Linked DNA regions of Homo sapiens: regions 1 and 2 are each linked to region 3. Evidence: fine-mapped expression QTL. A gene starts in region 3. Each other region holds a variant in brackets. All regions are shown on one strand. Distances are between the middles of the regions.

Region 1 (6,125 bases), 39 kb after region 3:
CTCAGGCTGGTGCTGGGGACAGACTCCTTCCAAATTGCTTTTCCCTGTGAGCTAAAGGAGGGGGTGGTGATAACTAATGTGACTGGGCAGCTACACACCAGCTTTGTTAGTTCAGAGCCCCATTTTACACACGAGAGAACGGACACCCAGAGCAGGGTTGGACCACTTGCCCCAGACTTTTTAGCTGCAGTGGTGGAATTCAGACAGTTGTGCCTGATGCAGAAGCTGTGCAGACTACCTCAATTCAGCGATGCTTCTGCCAGCTTCTGTAATTCACTGAGCTCACCGTGCTTCTCCACGTTTAGTCCATATCCCAGACTCTGATAGGCTTATCGCAAGCAGCTCTCTTGGCAGTTTCCATTCTGAGTTAAGTCATTAACCTCTCTCAGAGCTTTAGTTTCCTTCTCTATGAAATAAAGTGGACCATCTGTGTGATTCTCTAAGGGCCTTTTCATTTCTATCCTGTGTTTGGTATATTTCCACAAATGATGCTATGAACTTTTTAAGCTTTTAAAAAGGACGGGGTGGGGGGATAGAAGGTTTCTGGTTGCAGAATGGAAAGTAGGAAATACAAGGAAAACAGAAGGTAAGACGGGCACAAAGAGAGGATTAGGCCCAGGAGAACAGAACTGAAGATGCCATCAAGGAGGGGCCAAAGGGCTGCTTCGCTGCTTCATGGGTTCTGCCCAGCGGAAAGTGTCTGTTTAACACACTTCCATTTTGAATGTTTGCAAAACACATTTAAGGGAGTAAACAGCAAGAGTGGGCAGTGCTGAGCCAGAGCTGATGGAATAAGTGGGCCAGCATTCAGGTTTCAGTTCACATGTGGCCTTGTGGTGTCCTGGGGCTGCATTTGACTCCACTTAGGCCTCGCTGTTTATGGAAACAGGAAAGTGGCCTGGATGGGTGAAGGACTACAAGTGCAGGAGAGAGGATTAAGGCTGGCCTGCCCCAGCCTGTCAGTTTCACTCACTGCCTATTTAATTCTTGCAGCAGTCCCAGAGGCAAGCCTTACTCCACCTTTCTATGGCCGTGGAGAGGGTGCTACAGGTGCAAGGCAGAGCTGGGTTCAGACCTTGTGCTGTCTGATTGCAGAGCGTACTCTTCTTTCTATGTCCTCTACGAATCTCCACCTTCCCTCCCCTGTCCCCGACCTCCTCATGGTCATGACCACATACTCCAGGTTACTTACAGAATCCCTGTTTTAGTCCAGCATTAAGAGAGAGGACTCTAAGCTCTCATGTCTGGGTACAGGGCCTCAGACGATGGCATCAAGCAGGCTCACTTGCTCTCAGCTTTGCTTTCTTCCTTGTGTAATTCTCAAGGAGGCCCCAGGCTCAGCAGAAGAGGGTGCTGACATCCTGGGGAGGACTGGGATTGACCAGGCTTGGGTCCTAGGCTTATCCCCTAAGAAGTCACTCTGGCCAGGAGGATTCAATACTCTTATTGCCCAGACCTGGACATGTATTCACACCTAGAGTTCAAGGACTGGGAGGCAGAGGGATGCTCCAAAAAGACAGAACAGGTCATACACGTTCTCTATCCCCAGTAAGTCACTATCCAAGAACTTCCTGGCAAACATCTCAGCAGTTTTAGTGCAGGAGCTAAATGTAGCATTGCTGTCTCAGATTCACAGTCATTTGCAAGTCAGTGTCAAGCAGGCAAACTCACCAACCATCTGTGTCTCCTCCACTATAGCACTTGTATGAACTCATCCTACAAAGAGATAAAACAATTAGAAATTAGATACTTGAGTTTCTAGTTCTAAGAAATATTTTTCAGCCTTGGCAATCAAATTGATAATTAAATTCAATATTTAAAGTTTTTTTTTCCCCAACAGAGAATTCATGAAATCTGTACCTTAACTTTTGGCTGGGTTTCTTGGAAATGGAATGGTGAATTTTATTTTATTATTTATTTATTTATTTATTTATTTATTTATTTATTTTTTTAAAACAGGGTCTGGCTCTGTCACCCAGGCTGGAGTACAGTGGTGCGATCTTGGCTCATTGCAACTTCCACGTCCCGGACTCAAACCATCCTCCTACCTCAACCTCCCGAGTAGCTGGGGCTACAGATGTGCACCACCATGCCGGACTAATTTTTGTATTTTTGGTAGAGATAGGGATTCACCATGTTGCCCAGAGTGGTCTTGAACTCCTGGGCCCAAGCAATCCTCCCACCTCGGCCTCCCAGAGTGCTGGGATTACAGGTGTGAGCCACCATGTCTGGCCTAGATGTTTTATATAAGCCAGCTTGTGCAGTCTGCTCAAATGCCCTGTGGAGGAGGTAGCTTTCTAACCATTCGACAGATATTTGTGCAGTTGTAGAGAGAAGGCAGCATTTTCTGGCTTTTCCAACATGTTAAATAATTACAGAATGCCAAAAGAATCTCCATTATTATTAGAACAGTTTCATGCACAATTATACTCAGATAAGTTCAAGCAAATTATTCTATTTTACTTGTAGCAGATCCAAAGAGATTTAATTTTATATTTTTTAGGACTATAACTTTTCCTCTGAAAAATGGAAGATAAAATTTTTTAAATTTTAAAAAATTAAAATGAAGTCATCATGTCAGGTCTTGTTTATTTTTGCTTTGGCACAGAGAAAGGGTATATGGTAGGAGAGAATAGTCTTGAATGTCATAAAGTATTACATTCTTTTGAAGGTAGATTTTGACATGACACAGAGGGCCCTTCCTTGAACCACTATTTGAAAAGAATTTCAAACATCTAGGATAGAATGAAGCATCATACATTAAGGGTGGATGCTGCTTTACAAAAATTAGGTAAAGCTTGTCTTGATATGTATTGAAATGAGTGAATAGGTTTAGGAAAGGCTACATTGATTAGCAGGTATTTCACCACACCAAGCCCTTTTGTAAGTTATGTTTTCCTAAAATGCCCTTGTTACTCTGTGCATTATGGTATCATCATCTCGCATGGGACCTGGGCCTTCCAGAGCCTCTGCTGTTAGCTCTGCTCCTGTGTCCTTGCTTGAACAGATATCCCCCAGGCTGCTACTTCCGGCCACTTGTCTTCCTCTGCACTGTGGCAGGAGAAAGAATGAGGAGAGCTCAGGGACTGGTCTTTCTTAACATAGATATCCAGTTTCAGGAAGATTTTTCTTTGTAATTAACCCTGAGAGGTTAACCTTTTATGCCCTGCTTATTAGCATGTTCCAAAGTTCCCTGAAACTCAATATATTCCCAAACTAAACTTATTTCCTACTGAAACAGACAAAAATCCAACTCTACCTATTATCTCCTTCCCAACCTCCCAATTTGTGCCAATTTTCTCAACACTTACCTATAGAATTGTCTTTGAATCTCTCCCTGTGCCCCTCTACCTGCTACATGCATGTGGGATAAGAGCAACACTCTTCTGCAAAGCACTTCTTCCCACCCAGCACCCTCCTTCCCATTGCCACTCTCACCACCCACCTCCACCTTGTCGGATCTTGTGTGCGTTCCCAAGCCTTTCCACACTCTGTTTCCTCCTTGTTTTTACGCCCCTGCCGCTGCCTACCATCAAACCCTCGCTCCAGCCAGGGCGGGCTCCAGTGCCGTGTTCAAGAGAGACTCTCCCTCCCCTGCTGCTATTGCCTTTCTTCATGTTTTTAAATCTCCTCTCCTTTGACATTGGCTTTGAGCTCCACCTTCTACCTGAAGCTTTTTCCGACTTTCAGGTCCCCATTTCGATCATTCTCTTTGCTGTACCTCAATGAACTTGACCATAATATTAATTTTGCCTACATTTATACTTGGTTTTAGTGTTATTTCTTGTTTTGAATCTCATTTCCTTCATTATT[TC/T]CCCCAAAGACCTGTAACTCAAGAGCACATGGTTTACCCTCCTTACATCCAGTGTTACTTGAAGGGACTGAGCCTACTTTTAATGCTGTATTTGGTATGTTTTCTTTTATAACCACTGTTGAGAGAATACCTGGACTGTGCCCAGGTTTTAGAAACTTCCAGGGGTTATAATGAGCTGCTTATAAATGACCCTTTTAATCAAATTAGTTAAAAATTAGAAAAAGGAAAAAATATACAGCAGACATTACTAACCTTTAAATTTTTATCCACATAGCACCAAAACAGCGGATACTTTAAAATGTGTTTTCTTTGTTTTCACCATTGGAATGAACAACCAATAGAAGTCTGTTTGTGAAATTTTACTTAGTATAATGCTAAAAAATTTTCCAAATCTACAAACGTGTTTTTGTTTTTTTTGACAGTTCCTCAAAACAAAGTTGTATTTTAAGGAACAATAAGTACATTTTAGGTGATTGATGCTTTTTTCCTCCTCTTCCTCATAATTAAAATATAAAGCACGTTTGTTAAGTTTTGGCTAAAAGGTTTGCCTGGGGCAAAAGTATTCCACATGACCGAGGGACTGTGTTTTCTGGCTGGTCCTATTTACACACCTGCTTCCCTTGCATAGTCAGTCTTTTTATTCTGAGGCTTTTCTCTAAAGTTTAATTTTTATTTTTTTAATGTTTATCTAAAGTTTATAAAGTTAGTAGGATTTCTCAGTATCCTCAGACCTCATCCTTCAGTTAACATTCACGTTACCTTGTGTATTTATCTTCTTCCTATGTCTTAAGATATTTCCACTAGGAATTCTAACTCTGAAATATTTAAAATGTTGACTTCAAAGTCAGTGGAACTGTGCCAAGCGTGCTTCTCTGAAGATAAATGGGAGAGCTCCTGACAAAGGACAAAGTCAAGGCCCATTAACTTAAACAGGATGCAGTGTGTCTCAGGGAGGCCAGGCTTGTTCATGGTTGTAGAAGGAAAAGCAAGCCTTACATTAAAACAAAAACAAACAGATTTTAACTTTATAAGTGATCGTTCCCATGAGACACCATCTCCTTGGCGCTGTCAGCCTCCATTGCAGGAACTTCCTGCCTCAGTGCTTCCTCTTGCTGCTGAGATGGCTGCCAAACCCTCGGTTTCAGGGTGCTCTTGGGGGCATGTCCCATTCCCATATGCTGAGTGGGAATGGAAACCCAAATTCGTGCTGATCAACCTGTACTCAGCATAGCCTGTGACTGCAAAAGGATGGTAGACATTGGGAGAGGCTGAGAGCAAAAACTTGCAAAGGGGATTACTGCACACATCGCACTGCCCGTGACAAAGAGTAATGATTCAGGGCTGTGGCTTCCCCCGGTAAAAATTGGGAGACTTTAATTTCTTGTGCTCTGTTTTAAGAAAATCTTACATCATGCTTAAAAATGTTAATGCTTGCATGCTTACTAAATATTAGTACGGTCTTTGTTTTTGCTGCAAGAGATTCTGTTCCTGTCTAGATCCCCAAGGTGATGGTAAACTTCGAATGGATTATATGTCCACTGGAATGATGACTGTGTCTGAAATTTAATTTTAATTTGTTCAAAAACAGCTTTTGGCTAGAATCACATTCTGTTCAAAGCAAAAGGTGCCCCCCAACTCACTGATCCCTGAGCCTGGAAATTGTTAACTTGCCCAAAGGGAGATACAATTTTATCTACCCTTGTGGAGCTTACATCGTCATTGTAAGTGTAGGGCATGCCACGGTGCAGTTAAACACATCCACCTTCCTGTCATTAAGCATCTGAGTGGATGGCTCAGGAAAGAAAATTATGTCTGTAGACTGGAGGAGTCAAGAAATGTGAAAGGACGAGGTAGGACCGGAATGGACCTGTAGGACCCCAGAGTTGTCCAGGTGATGACAAGGAGGGAGAACATTCCAGGCAGGGGGTGTTTATGAGCCAGTGAGGGAAGAGCCTGAGCCACAGGAGCAGAAGGGCCACCTGGAGAGAAAAGAAAATGTTGGAATAGTCGGATGGGGCTAGATTGTGGACATGGACTTTTATCCTAAGCACAGTGATTGTCCAAAGAGTTTGATGAACAAAGCAGCATAAAAAAAGTTTGTTTTTTTTTTCTTTTTTCAAGGAAGATATATCTGTTGGGAAGGACGGATTGGAGTAGGGAGTGACATGAGTGGGACAGTTTATATAGATAGAATTGGAAGGAAAACAGGTCTGGGAGAGAAGAGAAGAAGTCAGCTGTGGGCATTGATTATGCCTGAGGGATTCTCAGGTTCTGCCTTGGGAAAAAGGGAGAAGCTGGGATGGAAGCTGGT
Region 2 (6,125 bases), 24 kb after region 3:
ACGTCTCTGCTTCATGGGTTCTTGCCAGTCTGTAGGTCCCCCACAATTTCTACAAAGTAAGAAGTTCCCTTTAACCCTAAAATGAGGGGGCCCTGGCAATAGAAGAGCTACGATCATGTCTAGAGCCTCTGTAGGTTTCTTGGTAGATTGGATCTCTAGTGTAAGATGCCATTAATAAAGGAAATCATCTTAAATCCCTAGTTCTCGGTTGTCATTCCACTTTACATCCCATCAGATACTTGGAAACTGCTGGTTTGTAAGCTCCATGAAGGCAGAAGTGGCGTCTTGTTCATATTTGAATTCCCTACAGAACCTAACGTGAAGTGGAGCCTCAATAAATCCTGGGTGAAGTAGATTAAATTATTCTCTTACTTAATCTCTTTTGCAGCCGGAATGTTCCCAGTTCCCTTGACCATTCTTTGTATAAGGTATTTCCAAATTCTTCACCATCCATGTCCTTCTCTCCGAACGCATCCCTGTTGAGCAGAATTTCTGAGACAGGCCCGTAGTGCAGGTATGGTCTGACGAGGGGCAGTGCAGTGGGTCTGTTCCCCCATGACCTCATCTCGCCAGTTAATGAGGCTTAAAGATGAACAAATAGCCTGCTATTATCTGAAAAGCATTTCTGAAAATATTGCTTTGAGCAGGATGATAGACTTGTTATAGGGAAGATTCCATTCATTGAAAGCTTACTTAAAAATATTTCCCTAGTTATATTTTTATTTTTATTAATAGTTTTTTAAATGACATTTATTTCTGGGTTTTCACACATGTGCTTTACATGTTCTTGTTTTCCTTTACAATTGAACATACACTCTATCAGCCAGAGGCCAGTGAGCATTTGATGGGGGCCAAAAAAAAAAAAAAGAGTTTTGGCATAGCTAATACTTTTCATCTTTGCCTCATCCATATTAAGTTTGAGTCTTGGGCTTATTATTAATTTGAGCACTTTCATTTTTTTCTATTTTCCACTCGTTATAAAATTACAACAAATTTTTTTTTTTTTTTTGAGACAGACTCAATTTGTTGCGCAGGCTGGAGGGCGGTGGCATAATCTTGGCTCACTGCAACCTCTGCTTCCCAGTTTCAAGCGATTCTCATGCCTCAGCCACCTGAGTAGCTGGGATTACAGATGTGCACCACCATGCCTGGCTAATTTTTGTATCTTTAGTATTTTCATCATGTTAGCCAGGCTGGTCTTGAACTCCTGACTTCAAGTGATCCACCCGCCTCGGCCTCCCAAAGTGCTGGGATTACAGGCGTGAGCCATTGTGCCCAGCTGCAAAATGCATTTTAACAGTGGTTTTAAAATCTTTATTTGGCAATCTTTATTTTTAAAAATTGGAACCATTTTTCTTCAAAAGTTGAATTAGGATTGAACCAGAGTAGGAAGCCGAACCTTCTCCCCTGGACTAGGTTCCTGGGGAGCTTAAGATGCTCTGAAACAGAATTTGAAAATGGTTGCAATAAAATATTCCCATGATTTCACAAGTACTGCTGAGTAAGGATGCTGCTGCTCGCCTAACGGAACTACTAGCTGGTAGCCCCATCATCATGGAATACAGAGGTCTGCCTGGGGAGTCTCTCTGAACCTGTTCCAGTTCAGACAGACTGCCTGATTATTGAAAAATAAATAAATAGTTAAATAAAAACAAAACAAAACAGAAGCCTACTTGAGTTGTTAGGAAGGTGGTTTAGATTAGGAGCATAGGATTGTTTGAGATTTGAACACTGCCCGTGTAAGCTTTTCTAACAGTCCCATGCTTTTGATCAATTATAAGATCCTCCCTCAAAAAATTTCCCCCCATAAACTATTGCCAAATCAGGTCTCTAGCTTGTAGTTTATTTTTTTTTTGACTGGCTTTGAAGACTTTAAAATATTTATCTATATTAAATGTCTTCTTGTAATTTTATTTTATTTTTAAATTTTATTTATTTATTTTTTTGAAATAGAGTCTTACTCTGTTGCCCAGGCTGGAGCACAGTAGCACAATCTCGGCTCACTGCAGCCTTTGCTTCCCGAGTTCAAGTGATTCTCCTGCCTCCGCCTCTGGAGTAGCTGGGATTACAAGCATGTGCCACCATGCCTGGCTAATTTTTGTATTTTTTAGTAGAGACGAGGTTTCACCATGTTGGCCAGGTTAGTCTTGAACTTCTGATCTCAAGTGATCATCCCACCTCAGCCTCCCAAAGTGCTGGGATTACAGGCATGAGCCACCCATGCCCAGCCGCTTCTTGTAATTTTAAACCCCACACTTTGCCCATCAATATCTCCTTGCCACTGACCTTAATATTCAATCTTGGTTTTTAGATCAGATTCTTAAATGTAATTACTGCAAATTAGCATCTGGTGACTTGGAGGACTGCAGCATCATTCCAATAGAGTGGCGTCATTTTGCTACAGCTGAAGAGACACGGTTGATTTATGAAGGGCAGAGTAAGGTAGAGGAGAGAGATAATAACTTTGTGTAACTTTGTCA[G/A]TCAGTCTGAATAATGCCAGCATTTCATGTCCTCATACAGTGATGATGGCGACATACAGGGTAGTAACTCCCTCTTCTATTTTTTTAAAGAAGGAATGCCTTTGGGGTATTAATGGAGAATATGCCTTGATAAGTACAGTAAGATGTGTTATTAGGTATTAGGATATACCAGCCTTCCAGTGAGAAGACTTAGTAATAAATGAGTAGCATTTTAATGATAACATTTAATGTTTCTACTTAAATAATATATGCAGACAATGTAACGAGTCAAACAGAAAAGATCACGAAGAAAAGCAAGAGCCATCCCTCTTCCTCTTGACTCCTAATAACCAGGAACAACTTTAGACAGTTATTTGTTGACTTTCTGCAAAGAAGTGAGAATTTTTCTTGGTTAACCAATTTTGCGGACTTCCTTTTACTATTTCCAGTGTTTTATAGTTATTTTTGGTTCTTCATTGAGAGTGTTTGTAATTTTTAGGTAATGTCCATGAGCTTTATTTCTTCTTCTGTCCCCTTGCATGAGCACCCGAACTCTCCTCCCTTTCCTTACCCCCAGTTCCTACTTGCTGTCAGCCTAACTTTTACTACTACAGGATTAAGGTTGCAAACATCTCCATTCTTTCTGGTAGTCACAAGTGACTTTCCATTGATTTCTATCATTTGAATTTATAAGTTTAAAAAATCAGCAAATATCATTACTATGGGGATATGTGTTATGCTAGAGTAACATTTTCATCTCTACACATGGTTTCAGGGCTTCCAGCCCATTCAAAGATCATGTTTTGTAGATCTTTCTGATTTAAGGCAAATGTGTACTCCAATCATGGCTTAAAAACTGCTATATATCTAATTTCATCTTTGAATCATGATTTCTTTATATTACATTTTACATTTCCTGAATTTTGTGATCACCTTTTCTTTTTGTTTTTTGGAAACAGAGTCTTGTTCTATCGCTCAGGATGGAGTGCAGTAGTGTGATCTCAGCTCACTGCAGCCTCCGCCTCCCAGGCTCCAACAATCCTCCCACCTCAGCCTTCTAAGTAGCTGAGACTACAAGTGCACACCACCACGCCCAACCAATTTTTTTGTATTCTTTGTTGAGGTGGGGTTTTGCCATGTTGGCCCGGCTAGTCTTGAACTCCTGGGCTCAAGAAGCCCTCCCACCTTAGCCTCCCAAAGTGCTGAGATTACAGGCGTGAGCTACCGCAACCAGCCTCCTTTTCTTTTTGTTGTTTAGAAAAGGATCGTGGGGTTTCATCATTTGCTCAGATGTTTCTGTCTTCTTTGTTACACTGTCTTTTGCATCACACTCTCCCTTGTCTTTTGGAACCTTTCACTTTCTCCCAATTTAATTTTCTGCTTCCCTGCCCAGGACTCAGGGATCACCTGAGGCCTTTCCCCTTTCTTGGTGGGCCCCCTGTTTTCCAGTTTCTACTTGTTCTTTCTTGGTTCTCTTTCTAGTTTTGCTAGAGGAAGTTTGTAATATCTTCAAAGGAATGGAAATGTAGGAGGTAAACTTTCTAGAAACCACTTGATGGATCCATGTCTGAAGGTCAGTTGACTTGAGAATGTAGAAGGCATTGTCCTGTAGGCACCTGGAATGCAGAGCCTGGTGCTGGACTGGTTCTGGTTTCTTGAAGCTGGCCTGTTTTTTCTTCTAAGGAAGCTTTTAGGATTTTTTTATATATATTCTTTGTGTTCTGAAGTTTTACAAAAATATTCCAAGGGAGGGTCTTTTAAAAATGATTATTAATGGCCGGACGCAGTGGCTCATGCCTGTAATCCCAGCTCTTTGGGAGGCCTAGGCAGGCGGATCACCTGAGGTCAGGAGTTTGTGACCAACCTGGCCAACATGGTGAAACTCCGTCTCTACTAAAAATACAAAAATTAGCCAGGCGTGGTGACGGGTGCCTGTAATCCCAGCTACTTGGGAGGCTGAGGCAGGAGAATCACTTGAACCCGGGAGGTGGAGGTTGCAGTGAGCCGAGATCACGCCACTGCACTCCAGCCTGGGCAACAGAGTGAGACTCTGTCTCAAAAAAAAAAAAAAAATATTAATTTATGTTGAACACTTAATGGGGGCCCTTACCGACTGAAGACTTGGATCCTTTGGTCTCAGAGATTTTCTTTAATATTTCTTTCAAAATTTCTTTTCCTACATTTTCATAGGTGTCTTTTATTACAACTTCTATTATACTGACCTCTGGATTTTCCTTGTCTCCCATATTCTCCATCTTTTTGTCTACTTTGTTTGATATTCTGAGAGGCCTCTTCAACTTTATTTTTGGGACTGTGAGTTAGATTTTGTGTTTACCCATCATTTTTTGTCTTTTTTTTTTTTTAACTCTTTGACTTCCCTTTTTCATAACATCCTGCTCTTGTTTTAAGGATATATTTTCATAAATCCAAGAGTATACTTATTTTTTTAAGCCCTATATGCTGGTCCCATACCTGTCTGAGTCCTCTGTGAAAGATACTTGGGTCTTTGATGCTGCTAGCTTTCCTTGTATGTTGGTAGGTTAGCTTGGTGATAAAGAGCCTGGTCACTGGCTCAGATTTGGGCTGAATCTTGGCTTTTTCATTTCCTAATTGCAAAGTACTTTAATAATAATGATATCCAACTGCTAGAGGTATTGAACATTAAATCATTTAGTACATGTACTTTTAGAATTGTGCCAGGCAAATAGCAAATGTGCCGTAAATGCTATCGTCATTGTCATCGTCATCACAGGCAAAATAGCAGATGTGCCATAAATGCTATTGTCATTGTCGTCACTTTTGTTCTTCAGTTTACACTGAGGAAGGAAAGATTGGGTAACCAGGTTGGGTTTCCTCTGTGCAGCGTAAGGTGGTATTCCTTGCCAGGCCTCTCCCGCAAGAGGAAATTTGGCTGGGGGCTTTCAGACACACGCAGCCAGTAGGGCACTGGGGGCCTCCTTCCTTGTTGTGGTAGACTTTGTTTCTGGAGGGAAGGAGGCCCCCCAGTGCCAGCATAAGGATGACTTTCCTTGAGAGCACCAACTAAAAGTCTTAGCTCACCCAGGAGGGCTTTATACTTTGTGTTGGGAAGGGAGTTGGATTTGTATAACTTTCTGTTCAGACTTCCTATAATTTACCTATTTTTAGTTGCATGCTAATTTTGAGTCGGAATCCTCTCTGGGATTCAGGTGGTTTCCATCTTCCCTGCAGCCCTGTTATAGCATGTCCTGGACAGAGTTCTCCACTCGATTTTATCCGTCAGTTTGTTTCCACACACCTTCAGTTACCGAGAAGCGCACTGGAATTCCTTCTGATTTTTCCCTGTCTTCCTATTCTCTCTGCTGTTGTAAGTTTATTTCTTTCTAATTTTTATGCTGCTTTTCCAGTGATGTTTGGATTGGTTGAAAAGTGAACAGATGGGCTCAGGTCATCATTTTGAACTAGAAGCCAAAGGAATCTTTTTTTTTTTTTTTTTTAATGTTTCCCCTTTATCTTCACTATGAGAAAGGAATCTTTTTTAAAAGAACTGCTTTGTTGCGCTGTGATTGACATACAAAAAGCTGTAGATATTTAATATATACAACTTGATGTATTTGAAGTTTACACCTATGAAACCATCAAACTGTCATCACTGTTGTTGCCATAAACTTATCCATCACTCCAGAA
Region 3 (6,125 bases):
CTGTTAGATACCCTTTCATCTCAGTTCCCAAAGTTTGATTCTTGTTCTGAATTAGATTAGGGACTAATGCACTCGACTATAACCTTAGCTCCCCATAGAAATATCACCACTGAATCAGGACGCAAGACCATCTTCTTAGCTTTTATGAGGACTTGATTTTTTTTAAAGGCACATAAAAACTGTTTTGAATCTTCTGCTGATGCCCTAATTAGACTGTAAGGTATCTGAGAGCAGGGACTATCTTACTCACCTTGGTAGCTGTAGCACCTAACACAGTGGATGCTGTGAGCACAAAAAACATTACATACATAAATGCTGAATACAATAAAGTGACCAAAGTATACCAATGTGTAGCAAGTTAGAAAGCCTTTTTATTTTTTTGAGACATAGTCTCACTCTGTCACCCAGGCTGGAGTGCAGTGGCATGATCTCGGCTCACCGTAACCTCTGCCTCCTAGCTTCAAGTGATTCTCGTGCCTCAGCCTCCTGAGTAGCCGGGATTGTAGGTGCACGCCACCATGGCCGGCTAATTTTTGTATTTTCAGTAGAGACGGAGTTTCATTATGTTGGCCAGGCTGGTCTTGAACTTCTGACTTGAAGTGATCCACCCTCCTCAGCCTCCCAAAGTGGTGGGATTACAGGCGTGAGTCACTGTGCCCAGCTGTATAAAGCTTTTTTTTCTTTTTAAAGGATTTTCGCAGAAAAATTCTTTTTTTAAAAAAAAAAAAAAAAAAAAGGAAATGCAAACCTGCAAAGCTAGAATTGGGCTTTATGTGAAGAGTTTCACCAAGTGTGAAAACCTTCAAAACAGACTTCAAATATGCAATCTGGACAGGCTTTGTTACCAGGTTTTTAAAAATCAAGTTTGAATAGTTCAAAAACAAGTAAAATTGTTTTAGTGAAGAAATGGCCTTTTAAAACCCAGGTCCTAGCTGGGCAAGGTGGCATGTGCCGGTAGTCCTAGCTACTTGGGAGGCAGGCCGGAGGGTCATTTGAGCCCAGGAGTTGGGAGTCCAGCCTGGACAATACAGTAAGACCCTGTCTCTTAAAAAAGAAAAAATTAAAAGCGAGGTCCTGAAGGTTAATGAAATCAGTATCGGCAATTCATTTAGATGACGGTGCTCAAAATATTCGTCCTGTGGAAAGTCACAACGAAAGGTAAAATTCTCAGGACATCTGTGAGTTAAAACAACAGACCCAGCGTAGGGATTGTGCCAACCTCCCAGTCTCTAGCTGCCCTGCTGGCAGTCCAGGAAGGGTATCTCCTGTCAGTTCCTGAAAGGGAATTCTTCAGCTGCCAAATCAGGCGGGAAAAAGGAAGTATAGAAGGCTCTGTGGAAACTGGCACCAGAGCACAGTTTCAAGGCACCGAGAGTTATATTTGAAAAATCATGTAAAGGTGGCTGCCAAGATTACAGTAGATTTAAAGCAGTATAAGAATCGTTCATGACTAAGACCACTGAAAAATCCTGGACCCAAAACAACTCTAGAGACACAAACACTGTAAACGATACCTAGTATATACTTACTACCGGAAAATCTGCCACACGTGGGATTAGAAATGACAACCTCAACATGGTTTGTTGCTAAATACAGTACCCTCCTGTTCTAACAGCTGACTTTTATAGATACAGAAATGTACTAAGGGTAAAACCATGCCCTTAGAAAGGAAACGCTGTTGCTACCTATACAGAAACAGCCTCTCCTAATAAGAAACACACTGATGACCACCCTATCCCACAACCCCGGTACCCCTTACGGTGCTGAGAACTTTTGGTACTGAGCCAGTTCAGAAAGCAGCACACACGAGAGCCAAATATTTCGGGCACATTCCAACTCTTGTCCACCCCTTAGTTTCCTTTTCAGTAGACTCCCAAGAACCTCCATCCACGGGAGAAACCTGGATTTGGGGGAGGGAATCCCAGGGGGAGGGGAGGGGAGCGGTCCACCCCGGGACACATGCACCCCCTCCAGGGTCCCCTCTGCAGATCGGCCCAGCTGTCCGGGCGCAGAGCCCCCAGCCCCGGCACCCAGCTTCTCCGGGCCCCGGAGCCGCCTGGAAGCCCCCGTCGGCCGCAGGTCGAGAAGGTGCTTCCCAGGCCGGGGAAGGTGCCCGCGCCCTTGCCCGCAGCGCCCCGCCCCGATGCCCGGCTCTGCGCCGCGTCCCAGCGGCGGCGCCGCCGCGCGGTAACCCGGAAGTGGCGGCGGCGGCGGCGGCGGCGGCGGGCGTGCGGGAGCGGGAACGGGAGCGGGGGGCGGCGCGCACGAGCCGGCCATGGACGCCGCCGCCGGCTTTGTGTGCCGCGCGCGGGCCCGGGCCGCCCGCGCCTCGCCTGGGTTCCGGGGCCGCCGCTGACCCGCCCGGGCTCCGAGCGCCGCGCCCGCCGGGCCGGCCCCGCCTCCTGCCCTCCTCCGCCTCCGCCTCCTCCTGCCGCCGGGCGGGCGGGCTGCAGCCGCCCTCCGCGCTCGCCTGCCAGCTCCCTCGCCGCGCGTCCGTCCTCCGTCCTCCCGGGCCAGCCAGCCAGCCAGCCAGCCGGGCCGGCGGCGGGCACCAGGCCGTCCCGATGCCCGAGCCAGGCCCCAGGATGAACGGCTTCTCGCTGGGTGAGCTGTGCTGGCTCTTCTGCTGCCCGCCCTGCCCGAGCCGCATCGCCGCCAAGCTGGCCTTCCTGCCGCCCGAGCCCACCTACACGGTGCTGGCGCCGGAGCAGCGCGGCGCCGGCGCGTCCGCCCCGGCCCCGGCCCAGGCTACCGCCGCCGCCGCCGCGGCCCAGCCGGCACCGCAGCAGCCCGAGGAGGGCGCGGGCGCGGGGCCCGGTGCGTGCAGCCTGCACCTCAGCGAGCGCGCCGACTGGCAGTACTCGCAGCGCGAGCTGGACGCCGTCGAGGTCTTCTTCTCGCGCACGGCCCGGGACAACCGGCTCGGCTGCATGTTCGTGCGCTGCGCGCCCTCCAGCCGCTACACGCTGCTCTTCTCGCACGGCAACGCCGTGGACCTGGGCCAGATGTGCAGCTTCTACATTGGCCTCGGCTCCCGCATCAACTGCAACATCTTCTCCTACGACTACTCGGGATACGGCGTCAGCTCGGGCAAGCCCTCCGAGAAGAACCTCTACGCCGACATCGACGCCGCGTGGCAGGCGCTGCGCACCCGGTGAGCCTGCCGGGGTCGCCAGGCCTGACTTCCAGCTGTGGGGAGGCGGGGTGGGGGTCTCTTGGGGCCCCTGGGGCGGCCTGCCAGGAGAGGGGCCCCTCCTCCGGGGCTGAGGGCCAGCGGAGAGCCCCTTGGCCGCCGTAAATTCGCTTTTCTTGTCCCACCCTGGCTTGCTCCCACCCTCTCCAAAAACCGCGCCAGCCTTCAGGTTCCTGGAGAGCTCGGACTCAGAGAATTTTGCCTGCTTTGGCTCGCCTGTGTGTCGCCGGCCCACCGGCTGGGTCTTTTGTGGCTCCGGTCACCGCGAGTGGCAGAGTGTGGGTGCTTAAGTACCGGGCAGAAAGAAACAACTTGGTTCGAGTTTCGTTTGTACGAGCTGAAGTGACCTTGGGCAAGGCACATGGGTTTCTAGACTCAGTTTCCTTCCCTGTAAAGTCAGTGGGCGAGACAGGATGGCCTCTAAAAGACTTTCTGGTTGTAAAGTGCGGGCAGGACAATGTCTGGGCAACCTTGGAAACAGCTGGAGCGTCAGGTGGAGCGGGGAGTTTGCCTCCTGGTGGGGCAAAGTAGTGGCACTGTGGGGCAGGAAGTTAGCTGGTAGCTGTGGGCCTGGCACCTTCCACACGGCCTCCATAACAGTCCAGGATAAGTTTGAAACTTGCAGGGGCTGGGAAATCTCTGACCTTAAATTAGCATTCACAGAAGGACTGAAAAGTGTTTAGGGTGGGCCATCTGTGAGCCAGGCACAAACTGGGGGCATGGTTTAGGGGTTAGACCTGGTTGTTTTATAACAAGCAAACCAAAAACCTGACTTTTATTCACTATTAGACAAAAGTCTTATACATGTGCAGGTCAGGTTACCTGTTTGTGCTCCAGTTTGGGTATCTGTGACCTTTCCGACCTGCCTCATAGCAGTGATGGTGAAAATAACCTGAGGCCATGTCTATGATGAGATTTGATTTCTTCAGATGAAAGAGTCCCCAGAGGAAGTACACCGGGCATTATTGTCGCCATGGACCCTTCTATAGTTTTTATCTAAAACCTGTTTGCTTATGCACATCACCAACGTTAATGATTTTTTTTTTTCATTCGTACTCACGCATATGTTCCTAAGTGACTCCTTGCCTGTCTGGGAAAATGGCTTGTCCAACAGGGAAGTACTTAATATTTGCTCTATGTTGCATGTTTATGCCCTCCTGAAGTCCTGAAGGGGATGCCCTCATTGGGATTATAGCTTTTCGAAAGTGGCTTAGGCAGATGAGAATGTATCATATGCAGATGCATTGGGTCAGAGTCTGTAAGTAGTTAAAAGCCACCTGTTCCAGTAAAGGGTTTCAAAAGTATGTGTCACACACAGTCTATAGCTTGCTAGAATTTGCTGTTGGCAAAGGTATTAAAAATAAGGTTGGCATTAGATCTTTAAAATTTGAAACATGAAAATCCTACCTTGAGTAGATTTTTTAATTGAAGAGTTTCCATAGAACATTGCTTCTGTGTGTGCATGTCCACATTACAATGAAAGCCTTTCACATGGCTCACCCTTTGCCCCAAATATACAGGTGTGTCTGTGTTACAGCTTACGTGGAGTGTAGTTATTTCCTGGAAACTTTTTTTTTTTTGGTCATATTTAGTTGAATTAAGGGGCGTTGTTTTGGATAATGTTGAATTATCTGATAGTGTATCAGTTGAATTAAGGGTAATTGTTTCGGATAACTTTGAATTATCTGATGGTATGTCTAAAGATTGCCCATGATTTATTTAATGTTATACCAGAACTCATATCTAAGTTAATTTATTCACCTGTAAAAAAGGTTAGAATTTGAAGGCTGCATGCGAAGCTTAGAATTTGAAGGAACCTTATAGATCCTCATGTCTTGTGCTTTTCAAACTGTTTTGACTGTAACCTCACAGTAAGAAACACATTTTACGTTTTGATCAAGCACACATACACGTCTGTATCCACATACCTGAAGCCAATGCTTCACAAAACAGTAATTTTTCTATGGGCAGCACACATAGCAGAATATGTTGTTTTATTTCACTTTTTTTTTTTTTTTTTTTTTGAGACGGAGTCTTGCTCTGTCGCCCAGGCTGGAGTGCAGTGGCGCCATCTTGGCTCACTGTAAGCTCCACCTCCCGGGTTCACGCCATTCTCCTACCTCAGCCTCCCGAGTAGCTGGGACTACAGGCGCCCGCCACCGCGTCCGGCTAATTTTTTGTATTTTTAGTAGAGACGGGGTTTCACCGTGTTAGCCAGGATGGTCTCGACCTCCTGACCTCATAATCCGCCCACCTGGGACTCCCAAAGTGCTGGGATTACAGGCGTGAGCCACCGCGCCTGGCCTATTTCACTTTTATAAAAAAGAAAAAAAAAGATGGTTGTGAATTGCTAAATTTATTTCCCAACTCATGTATGGACACTGCACACGTTCACCCAGCTCATCTGACAGGAGGATAGACTGGCGGCAAATCAGCAGTAGGTCTCTTGACTACCAGTTTAGTACTCTTGCGAGGGCACCATTGCCACGGTAAGCATATTTATCAGATTCTTCAGGAGGTGCATTTGTGTGTCTTGGTTATTCTGCTGACATAAGAGTTACCTAATTCTGAAGCCAATCAGCCCCTCAACCACTTTCCTCTTGCTGTTCAGTATGGTTCTTCTGCTCTTACTTGCCTGGAGCAAGTTCTTATGCTATTCTCTCTTCTTTTACAGCTTAATTCATGTCAGTGCCATGGCAGGAATGCCTTCCATCCCATGTGTCCATTCTTCTGTTACTGGGTCAGACTCTGTTTTCCACCAGCCATCCCCCATGTCTTCTTTGGGAATCTTTATCTTTCCTGCCCTCCTAGTTAACCACACTCCCCAGGACACTGATTGGAGAGCTTGCCTTGTTCTGAGTCATCTTCATCTCTGTACTTAGATTATTCCCCCAGGAGGACTGTAAGGTGCAGTGCCCTGCAGGCCCCAAAG

What was found.
Region 1: its variant is fine-mapped to the expression of ABHD17C in whole blood (TOPMed, PIP 0.95).
Region 2: its variant is fine-mapped to the expression of ABHD17C in blood mononuclear cells (TOPMed, PIP above 0.99). The same link has a PIP of 0.9 or more in T cells, monocytes and whole blood.

What each region holds. Positions count from the first base shown.
Region 1 is chr15:80,732,051-80,738,175 of GRCh38, forward strand. All of the region lies in intron 1 of ABHD17C (abhydrolase domain containing 17C, depalmitoylase), which reads left to right. Among named protein-coding and RNA genes, the nearest start is that of ABHD17C, 40 kb to the left of the region's middle. The variant TC/T (reference allele first, on the strand shown) is at 3,814.
Region 2 is chr15:80,716,405-80,722,529 of GRCh38, forward strand. The region is part of intron 1 of ABHD17C (abhydrolase domain containing 17C, depalmitoylase); the gene reads left to right. Among named protein-coding and RNA genes, the nearest start is that of ABHD17C, 24 kb to the left of the region's middle. The variant G/A (reference allele first, on the strand shown) is at 2,481.
Region 3 is chr15:80,692,866-80,698,990 of GRCh38, forward strand. ABHD17C (abhydrolase domain containing 17C, depalmitoylase) reads left to right here and starts at 2,445. Exons shown (of 3, transcript NM_021214.2): 1 at 2,445-3,154. The coding sequence starts at 2,565. RefSeq lists silencers at 1,163-1,457, 1,919-2,078, 2,099-2,208, 2,229-2,648, 2,739-2,788 and 1 more and an enhancer at 2,979-3,048.